Regions from separate parts of the Homo sapiens genome. Here region 2 is linked to region 1. Evidence: fine-mapped expression QTL. A gene starts in region 1. The other region holds a variant in brackets. All regions are shown on one strand. Distances are from middle to middle.

Region 1 (4,532 bases):
TCTTGGTATATTCCAGAAGAGAGTTCTCTAATCTCTGCATAGATTTATTTTATTTTTACTACAGAAGGGCCTTAAATGACCAGATAAAGCAGAGGATGAGAGTTCAGAAAGGCTTTCTTGGCTTGAGAGAGAAGGGCAAGAGAGAGGAAAGGCTGAGAACTGTCTGTATTTCAGGATCTAGGCCAAGGGGCCAACGAGAAATAAGAAGGCCACTCTTGGTATTGTTTATTATATCCTATTGCAAAGGGCTCCCATAGAAAGAACTGGGATCTAAGGGCCTGTGAAGGAGGATTAGGTGGTGAGTAACATCTCCATATAGTCAGTATGTTTTAAACCTGGAGGAGCATGGCTAGAGACAGGGGGAAGAGCCAGACTTGGCCACTGTCTAAGAACCCTTGGTAGGAGTTTCAGCCCTGCAGGTAACTCTTTTTTGCAATGTCAGCACTACAGGACAAAGGTGGGAAAGAGGAAAGCACATGAATCCCAGATTCCTGCACTCAGAGATTCCGAAGGCGACTTATTGTGGCCTCTTAGGTGTTAGAGGGAAGGCTGGGGGTGCCTGAAATCCCTGCCCACTTCCTGGCTGCCCAGGGCCAAGGAGGGCCTGGTTATAGGCCCAACTCAACAAACTTCTCCCCCATCCATCCTTTTACCACACCACCCCCAGTCATCACAGAAAAATGACCCAATTACTCAGCCTCCTGCCTTAATTGTGGGACACATAGTGACTAAGTGTTCACAATTGCCCATTTCTTCCACCCCCCCCCCACCCGCCACTTTGCCTTGACCAAACATGAGTCAGGCTTCTCTCCAGCAGGTCCCTGGAATTTAGCTTGCCCCCCAAATCTGAGCAAGAACTAAAATGTGAAACATTCACCATTGTTAGCTTATCTTCCAAATTCTTGGACCACAGAGACACATTTCTTGTTCAACCAAGAGGGTCTTGAAGTGAGTTGTTTCCCCCATCCACTTGGCTTTGCCTATTGCTTGCTCCCCCTTATATATATAGAAAAAAAAGGCCGATTTCTGTTTGGTTTTGAGAGGTTTGCAGATTTCTGAGATCAGAGCGTTTTCCCTGTTGCAATAGTCTTTCTTTCTAATGGAAGTCTCCCTATCTTATCTAAATTCGGATTTGTTTCTGTTTGACGTTAATGTGTAGCTAAGAGTGATCCCAGGTGAGTCTGAGCCCGCCTTGGTGGGGAATGAAGCCTGGAGCATCGGAGCATTTGTCTTTCTCTTAGAAAAGGCAAGGAAGCCTGAAATGCGCAGCTCTCCCTTGAACTTCAACTTTTTAAAGGGGAATGAATTTCTAAAGGAGGAGTTTCCAGTCTAGGGCTGTAGGGGCCTCCGGGCAAAGGAAGTGCTTGTTGAAAAACAACATTGTGATCACTTCCAGCGGCGAAGGGTGTGCTTGGGAACGGTTTGGGGAGGGGACAGAAGAGAGAGGGGTGGGATGGACGGCGGCAGAAGTGGGAGGTACACGAGGAGTTACTGGAAACGGCGCTTCTGTGGAGGAGCCGGGGGGGATGGGGAGTAGAGGGAGGGGGCCCTGTTGCCTCAGCGCCCCGAGGTCGTGGAGCGGCAGCAGCTGCAGCCGGAGCAGCACCAGCAACAGCAACAGCGAGCGGGACGGAGTTAGGACCGCTCGGAGCGCACAGGTCTCGAGGTAGTATAAGGTTTGCTATCCTTCCACTTGCTGGCAGTTGCAGAAGAAGATCTGCTTTTTAAGTGAAACGTACATGCCACCCCTCCGAGGGCTGCGGCTTCCCCGGGCTTGCTTCTTTGCCGCTCCTCTTTCCGGCTCTCGCGCTCACTCTTTAATTGGCACTGGCCCCTAAGTTTGCCAGGAGCTCGCTGCCCGCTCGGAGCAGGGTCCCGGCCGGGAGCCGCTGGTGGGGGCGGGGAGTCCGGGAGCCGCAATCCAGAAGCGTCGTGGGCCATGTATATTTCATCAAACGGACTTTGGGTGCGTCGCGTCTCACTGCCATCAGTGCTATGTGCAGTGACATTTCTGACTTGAGTGGAGGAATGCGCGAAGGAAACCCGGGCGAAATTGGTATTAGAGGATCTTCTTGGCGCCAATGCTAATTGTCCTGATTTATGCCCCTTCTGACTAAGCTCAACGTCTTCATCTGAAATAAAATGAAAGCGGTGCCAAGCGGCATAGAACCGCCTGGCCGCTGGTTCTGATCCCCGGGAACCAGAAAATCGTCCTGCGGCTTGAAAAAAAAAAAAAGAGGAAAAAAAAAAGAAATAGAAATAGAAAAAAGAAAAAATATCCCTCAGTAAAAGTTTAAGGCGAGAAGTGTCAGAGGCAGCGGAGCGAGGAGGCGCGGAGGAGAGCCGGCGAGCAGGGGACTGGGCTGGCACGACCTCCGAAGGCTGAGATCTCATTATTAATATCACTATATTTTTGGAGGGAGAGGCACCTTTCTCATCCTCTCTTCCTCTCCGCCCACCCTTACTCCCTCCCCCTCATCTACCTGTCAAAGTCACTGATCTTTTGCATTTCGGAAGAGGACGTCAACGGGAAGGAATTCCCCCTCTGGGTGCGGGCTCCGAGAGGGGGCGACTTGCAGGAGGCTCCCCCCGGGGGCGGAGGCGAAGGTAATTAAGCGGCGGGGAGTGGCGGGCCGGCGCTGGGTTCTCGGTCCTCGGGGTCCTCTCCCGCCGGCGGCCGGGCGCGATCGGAATCCCCGGGCTGCGGCGGTGGCGGCGGCTCGGGTCCTCACGCCCACCCCTCCCGCTCCGCCCGCTCCCGCCTGGGGAGGAGGCTCCGCGGGAGCTGCCGCCCTCCGCCCGTACGCCGCCCGCGGGCTCCGCTGCTGCGGCCGCCGCCCGAGGCGGACCAGGCTGGCTGCGCAGGGCCGCCGCCCCGCGCCGTCGGCTCGGCTCCCGCCCGGCGCAAGGGCAAACGAGCCACACGGTAAGTGCCTGCGGCTCGCCTCTCCTACTGCGACCCGAGCCTCTCGCCCGTGCCCCTCTCCCCCGGGTTTCCCCACCCCCCGCCGCCCCCCGCCCCACCCGCTGCGATGCACAGGCGGGAGGGAAGGCTCCGGGTGGGCGAGGAACTTTGTAAAGCGCCCCGAGGAGGCAGCGCGCGGAGCCCTACGCGCACACACAGCGGCACACGCTCACACCCACACACAAGTCTTCCCGGGGGTGCGCCCCGGGCCGGTGATGCGTCCTCTTGTTGTGTCCGGAGCCCAGGCGTGGGGTCTGAGCCTCCATCCGCCGACTGACAGGGGCCCCGCGCTCTCCCTCTCTCACGCACACCTGGCCACACACATCGCTCAGGCGGCTTGTCGTTATTTTTTCTTTCTTTCGCCAATTATATTTGTTTGGGGAAAAGCAAACAAAAAAAACAAAAAAACACTTGCCCTATTGCCGGCCTTGGGGATCTGGTGGCCACATCGAGAGCTTTTGAAGTCCCTTCTTTTAATCGCCTTTATTGGTGCTAGATTAAAACATTACTATCCCATGTTGTGCAGCTGGGGAGAAAGGGAAATTGAAAGAGGAAGACTTGGTGTAGGGATGCTGTTTGGAATATTCTCTCATATTCTTTACTGGCATCATATTAATCGGTTGATGGATTCGGCTAGGGACACTGAATTGCACTCCTGTATGGATCTGTGGATATCTATATATAATACAAATAATACTGAATATTATTGGGCCTAAAATAACCAATTAAGTGATTCATACAAGGAAAAACTTAGATATAAAAAGAAACTGCGCCCTCTGCTGTTAATTTTAGTACCCTCACCCGGGGACTTTTTTTTTTTTTCCTTCAGAAATCCACTTAAGAGTAGGCTGTCATCTTACAGGGCAAGGGAAGAAAATTCCTAGCGGGGATTTTAAAGCAACTTTACTTGGAAAAGTCGCAGGTTGAGCTCCTATAGTTGCATCAGGTACAGATTTCCAGTGAGTAGACGGTCCTCCTCTCTCACCCATTCTTCTCTTTATACAGGGAATAATGGAGCCACTCCTCATAACAAATTGTCAATCTTTGGAATGGAAAATTCTGAGTAAGATTCAGAACTCCACTAAACATATGGTGAATCTGGCAGTAGAATTGCTCTAGAAATAAGGCCCTGTTTTATGACTGAAAATACTAAAAGTTGTTTTATCTTACAGAAATGAAAAAAAAAAAAACCCAGGAAGATCTTCCATTAAAATCACTTATTCAGATATGCTTAGTAGTTAAGCTTGTTGGAAAGTTTTCCAAAAAATAATTTTTTTTTTTTTCAGGGGAGGCTTTTCTGTTTTGTTTGTCCCTTGAGGAGGATCTCTAGTGAGGGAATTAGCAATTCCACATTTCATTAAGTATTTTGAACTGTGTCACTTTGAATGCCTTACCCGCCTCCCTTTCTCTTTGGCAAAGGAAAAGCAGCTCAGTAACTGTCCAAGATTCTTTTTGAAGATAAGCAACTTTCGATTTTTCATTAAGATAAAATTTGGATCTCTGCATGTGGATCAACATGCAAGGAAAAATGTGCATCAAGTATTTCACATGTAATGTTGTTCCAGGG
Region 2 (4,000 bases), 58 kb after region 1:
TATCCCATGGAAGTTGAGGAAAGTAGATCGTGGGAAGTAGTGGGATGGACTCGGAGTCCTTGGGTCCTGTCTTCTGTTTAATTCTGCTCTTTGATAGATGTGTGCCTTTGAAAAAATAACACAACCTTTCTCTGCTTCAACTTCCTGTGAGGAGTACAGTAAATGATGACAACATAACACCCAGGCAAGAACTGTTTGTCAAAGGGAAACTAGTTTCTCTATGGAAAAACTGTTATGAGTTTTATTAATAAACTAAGTATGTTGGGTAGAAAAGAAGAGTTCTACCTGCCAATATCAATATGCATTTTAAATTTTAGATAAAATAAAGATAAAAATATTTTATTCTAATTATGGATGATCTGTGTCTTTCAGGACTGTATGTGCATTCTCCCAAATATCAGCTCTAATGTCATATTTTTCTATAATAGTGTCAGACTAAGAGCCTATGAAAACCTTGTCATTCTCGGGCGGGTGTGTGTGTGTGCGCACGTGCATGCATGTTGGGGTTAGGGTTACCAAATAAAATACAGGACAACCAGTTAAGTTTGAATTCATTGTAAACAATGAATATGGTTGTTATACAAGTTTTAGCGTATAAAAGTTTAGTGTAAAACTATTTATTGTTTATGTGAAACATTTTAACTGAGCATGCAGTACTTTTAGTTGCTTAATCTGACCAACCTACAGGGGGCGCTGTATATGTCTGTATGATACCCTTAGGCTTGTGACACAGGAAATGCGGTCTGATTAGTTCTGCAGCCTTAGTTACAAGGGTCAGCTGTGCTGAAACTAGGTAGGTCTCTGCTGGCTTACTGCCACTCCCAAATGCTGCCCTCTACAACAGCCAATTACAGTGTCACCGAGCCTTCTCATTAGACACAATCTAATGAGAAATGGCAAACGTCAATACTTTGGAATTTTGTTCTTTAGAAACTGTGTGGCAGATGAAGCAATTTTTCAACATTTAGTTTCATAATGAAATGATATCTTTGAAGTTCTGCATATTATATAAGAATGGGTTGACAATATTTAGACCCATTGAGTGTTAGATATGGAAGGGTCTTCAGATGCCACCTTGGCTACTCTTTTTATGCTGATAAGGCGACACTCAGAGAGTTCAACAGATTTGTGCAGGACTACATTCTGGCTTGGATGAGATTTTGGCCCTCTGTCTTCAGGCTCCACTGGTTTTCCCTACAGTGTTTCCCCTATGGTGCTCCCTATCTAATCCCTGCCATGACATTAGAATACACATTCACGTAGTGACAGAGTAGGATCCATTTTTCTTTCTCTGTGTGGCACCTTGCCCAGGATCATTTGGATGTATGGATATAATTGATAATCTGGTGCACCATGGTGTGTAAACATTGCCATCCACCTGGCCACTGTTATTTTAAATCATAAGCTCATCTCTATTCACATAATTTTCTATGCATTAAATTGGGTCACTTAATGTGATTATACAAAAATAATGATCCTATTCCCAGGCCCTTATGATAATGCACATTTTTTTCCTATTCTTTGAGGTGCAATGTCAAAGGTAGATTCTAGTGTAACTTTCATCACTACAGCTTATTTAGATATTCTGCATTTTCAATATTTCAGTAAAATTTAAAATGTTCTTGCTTCAGAACAAATTCTAAATAATGTGACACCAACGGGACAATTGGAAATTTAAACAGTGACTTTAACGGTGTTGGAAAAGAATGATGTTTCATTCTTTAGGTGTGATAATGGTGTTGTAGTTACATTTAGAGACACATACTGATATACTTATGGATGTGCTCTTGGCTTGACTTCAAAATTATATTGTGGAAGGAGACAGGATTAAGTAGGGAATGGATCAAACAAGATTACTATTGAGATAATTACTGAAGGTGGATAGTGAGTACATGACAGTTTCATTATACTATGCTGTCTACTTTTGTATATGCTTGAAATTTTCCAGAACAGTAAAAACTGTATCCTT[A/G]TCTCCAAACTCTAGTCTGCTTATACAAAGACAAAATAAAATTACATCACAGGAAATCAAAGATTTTAATGCCCATCTTTAGTGGGGAGAAATAATATTTGTCCAAAAGTTCAGTACTTGTGTGTCTGCTTCTTTTGTTCCCCTTCGTATTTTTGTGTTTTGGGGAGAGTAAACATGTAAGAGAAAGAACTTAGAACTGGGGACTCAGGGAGTCTAGATTCTAGCAAGTTTCTGCCTTTTGTTAGTTGTGTGACCTCAGGCAAGATACTTAATCTCTTTGGGTCTCAGTTTTCTCATTATGTAAAATGAGAACATTGCACTGTGTGGTTTCATAGGGCGTTTGGCTCTAAAATTGTTTGACTTGATATCACACGCAGGCTTTCCAAATCCCCTGCAAACTTGGCTCATGGAGTGTTTAGTCCTGTATTCTGTCTCTATTAATGGAGCAACGGGCTATATTCTGGGGACAACTGATTTTGACTTAAAGATATTAGGAATGAGACACCGAAATATTTTATGCTTCCCATGAATCTCCTGTGCAGCAATTTATTATTTAGTTTCTTCTGAAATTGCTATTTTTTTTTTGAAATTTTCTAGTCAACAATGAGTTACAGAAATTATTTCTCACTTTGAAAAGTTGAAATTTCTTGATATAGTGCTAAAATAAACTCAAGATTTTAAAAGTGCACCCTTCTTTTAGTAGGCCAAGGTCTTCTTAATAATACCATATATTCTATATATCATTTTATGATTTTATTACCTTCAGTTATCTCCCCAGTTTTCTTAATTCTTTTATGTATTCTCATGTAGCCAGATCTCTTCACCAATTTTATTACTTCTTTTTTTTTTCTATTCCTAATTCTGGAATTTGGCACACATTACATATGTTGTATTTAGGCCATAAAAAAAATGCTATAGTGAGACTTCTGAATATGTGAAGCACAACCTTAGCTCACTGTAGATCTATATCTTTGTAACTTCTACACGAGTATTAAATTGTATTGCAGTCCTATAATCATTGCAAAACATTTGCTTATTAAAAATATGTACTGGATACTACTTTATAGTAATACTAAGTATTATCTCAATGTCACATCAAAATTCATCCATTCAACAAATGTTTAATGAATGTCTTCTAGATGTGTTAATTCTGAAAAGCGATTTCACAGGAAAGAAGGCTTAGAAGAAATTACCAGAGGACACAGATTTCCAATTTTAAACTGATTTATTCATCAGAAAATGTTACTAAGTGACACTTACTTATTCATACACACAGTCCTCCTCTCGCGTAGATACTTCAAAATTACCATAATTAATTCAGAGACCCAACTCTGGTCCTCTTAAAGTAAAGTGACTATTTCAGTGGAAGCTATAATGGAATATCCCTAAGAAATCCATTGTCATCCTTAAAAAATACAAATCCTCTTGGCTTACTCAATGTCTTTGTGATAATCCTTTTTATCAATCAGTAACCTTCTGGACCAGGATTTGTTTGTTTAGTTTCTATGAAGCAGTGATGCTTTTATCTAGAATCTTTCAGCACCAGTTTTTGATCTTCATGGAATCATGGGGTTTTCTCTCAATTTGTTAGAAGTACTAGACATGACAAGTACTATGATTTGTTCCTTCTTTAGCCAGATATGTACTCTAGTGACAATGCCAGATTCTTGGATACTGCTTTTGTAACCATTCCTTTCTTTCACCATAATCTCTGACTGATACATTAGGGTGGGCTCTGTGGTTAGCTACTAATATTAACATTCATTCATTTAGTCATTCATAAACATTCTTTTGGTCATTCACTCTTTGTTAGGTAAGTACAAGAGTGGCAAAGATAATCCTGGCACCCTCCATTTCAAAATAACATGTTTCTTGTTATATAACATTTCTTGTTAATAACAAAATAACATATTAGTGATACTTGGTAGCATATCAACTAATCATATGGTCTGTGGTTGAACTTAAACAGTCTGTGTTCTCTTGATCACAGTGTCTTGAGTTTCTTTTTGAGTCTTTCATAATGTTTTCATG

The links. PIP is the estimated chance that this variant, and not a neighbour inherited with it, causes the effect.
Region 2: its variant is the best candidate, but not a certain one, in a credible set for the expression of NTNG1 in esophagus muscle (GTEx, PIP 0.71).

The regions. Positions count from the first base shown.
Region 1 is chr1:107,138,534-107,143,065 of GRCh38, forward strand. It overlaps NTNG1 (netrin G1), which reads left to right and starts at 2,506. Exons shown (of 8, transcript NM_001113226.3): 1 at 2,506-2,607. RefSeq lists an enhancer at 2,146-2,677 and silencers at 2,611-2,900, 2,921-3,200.
Region 2 is chr1:107,196,471-107,200,470 of GRCh38, forward strand. All of the region lies in intron 2 of NTNG1 (netrin G1), which reads left to right. Among named protein-coding and RNA genes, the nearest start is that of NTNG1, 57 kb to the left of the region's middle. RefSeq lists a silencer at 681-730. The variant A/G (reference allele first, on the strand shown) is at 1,970.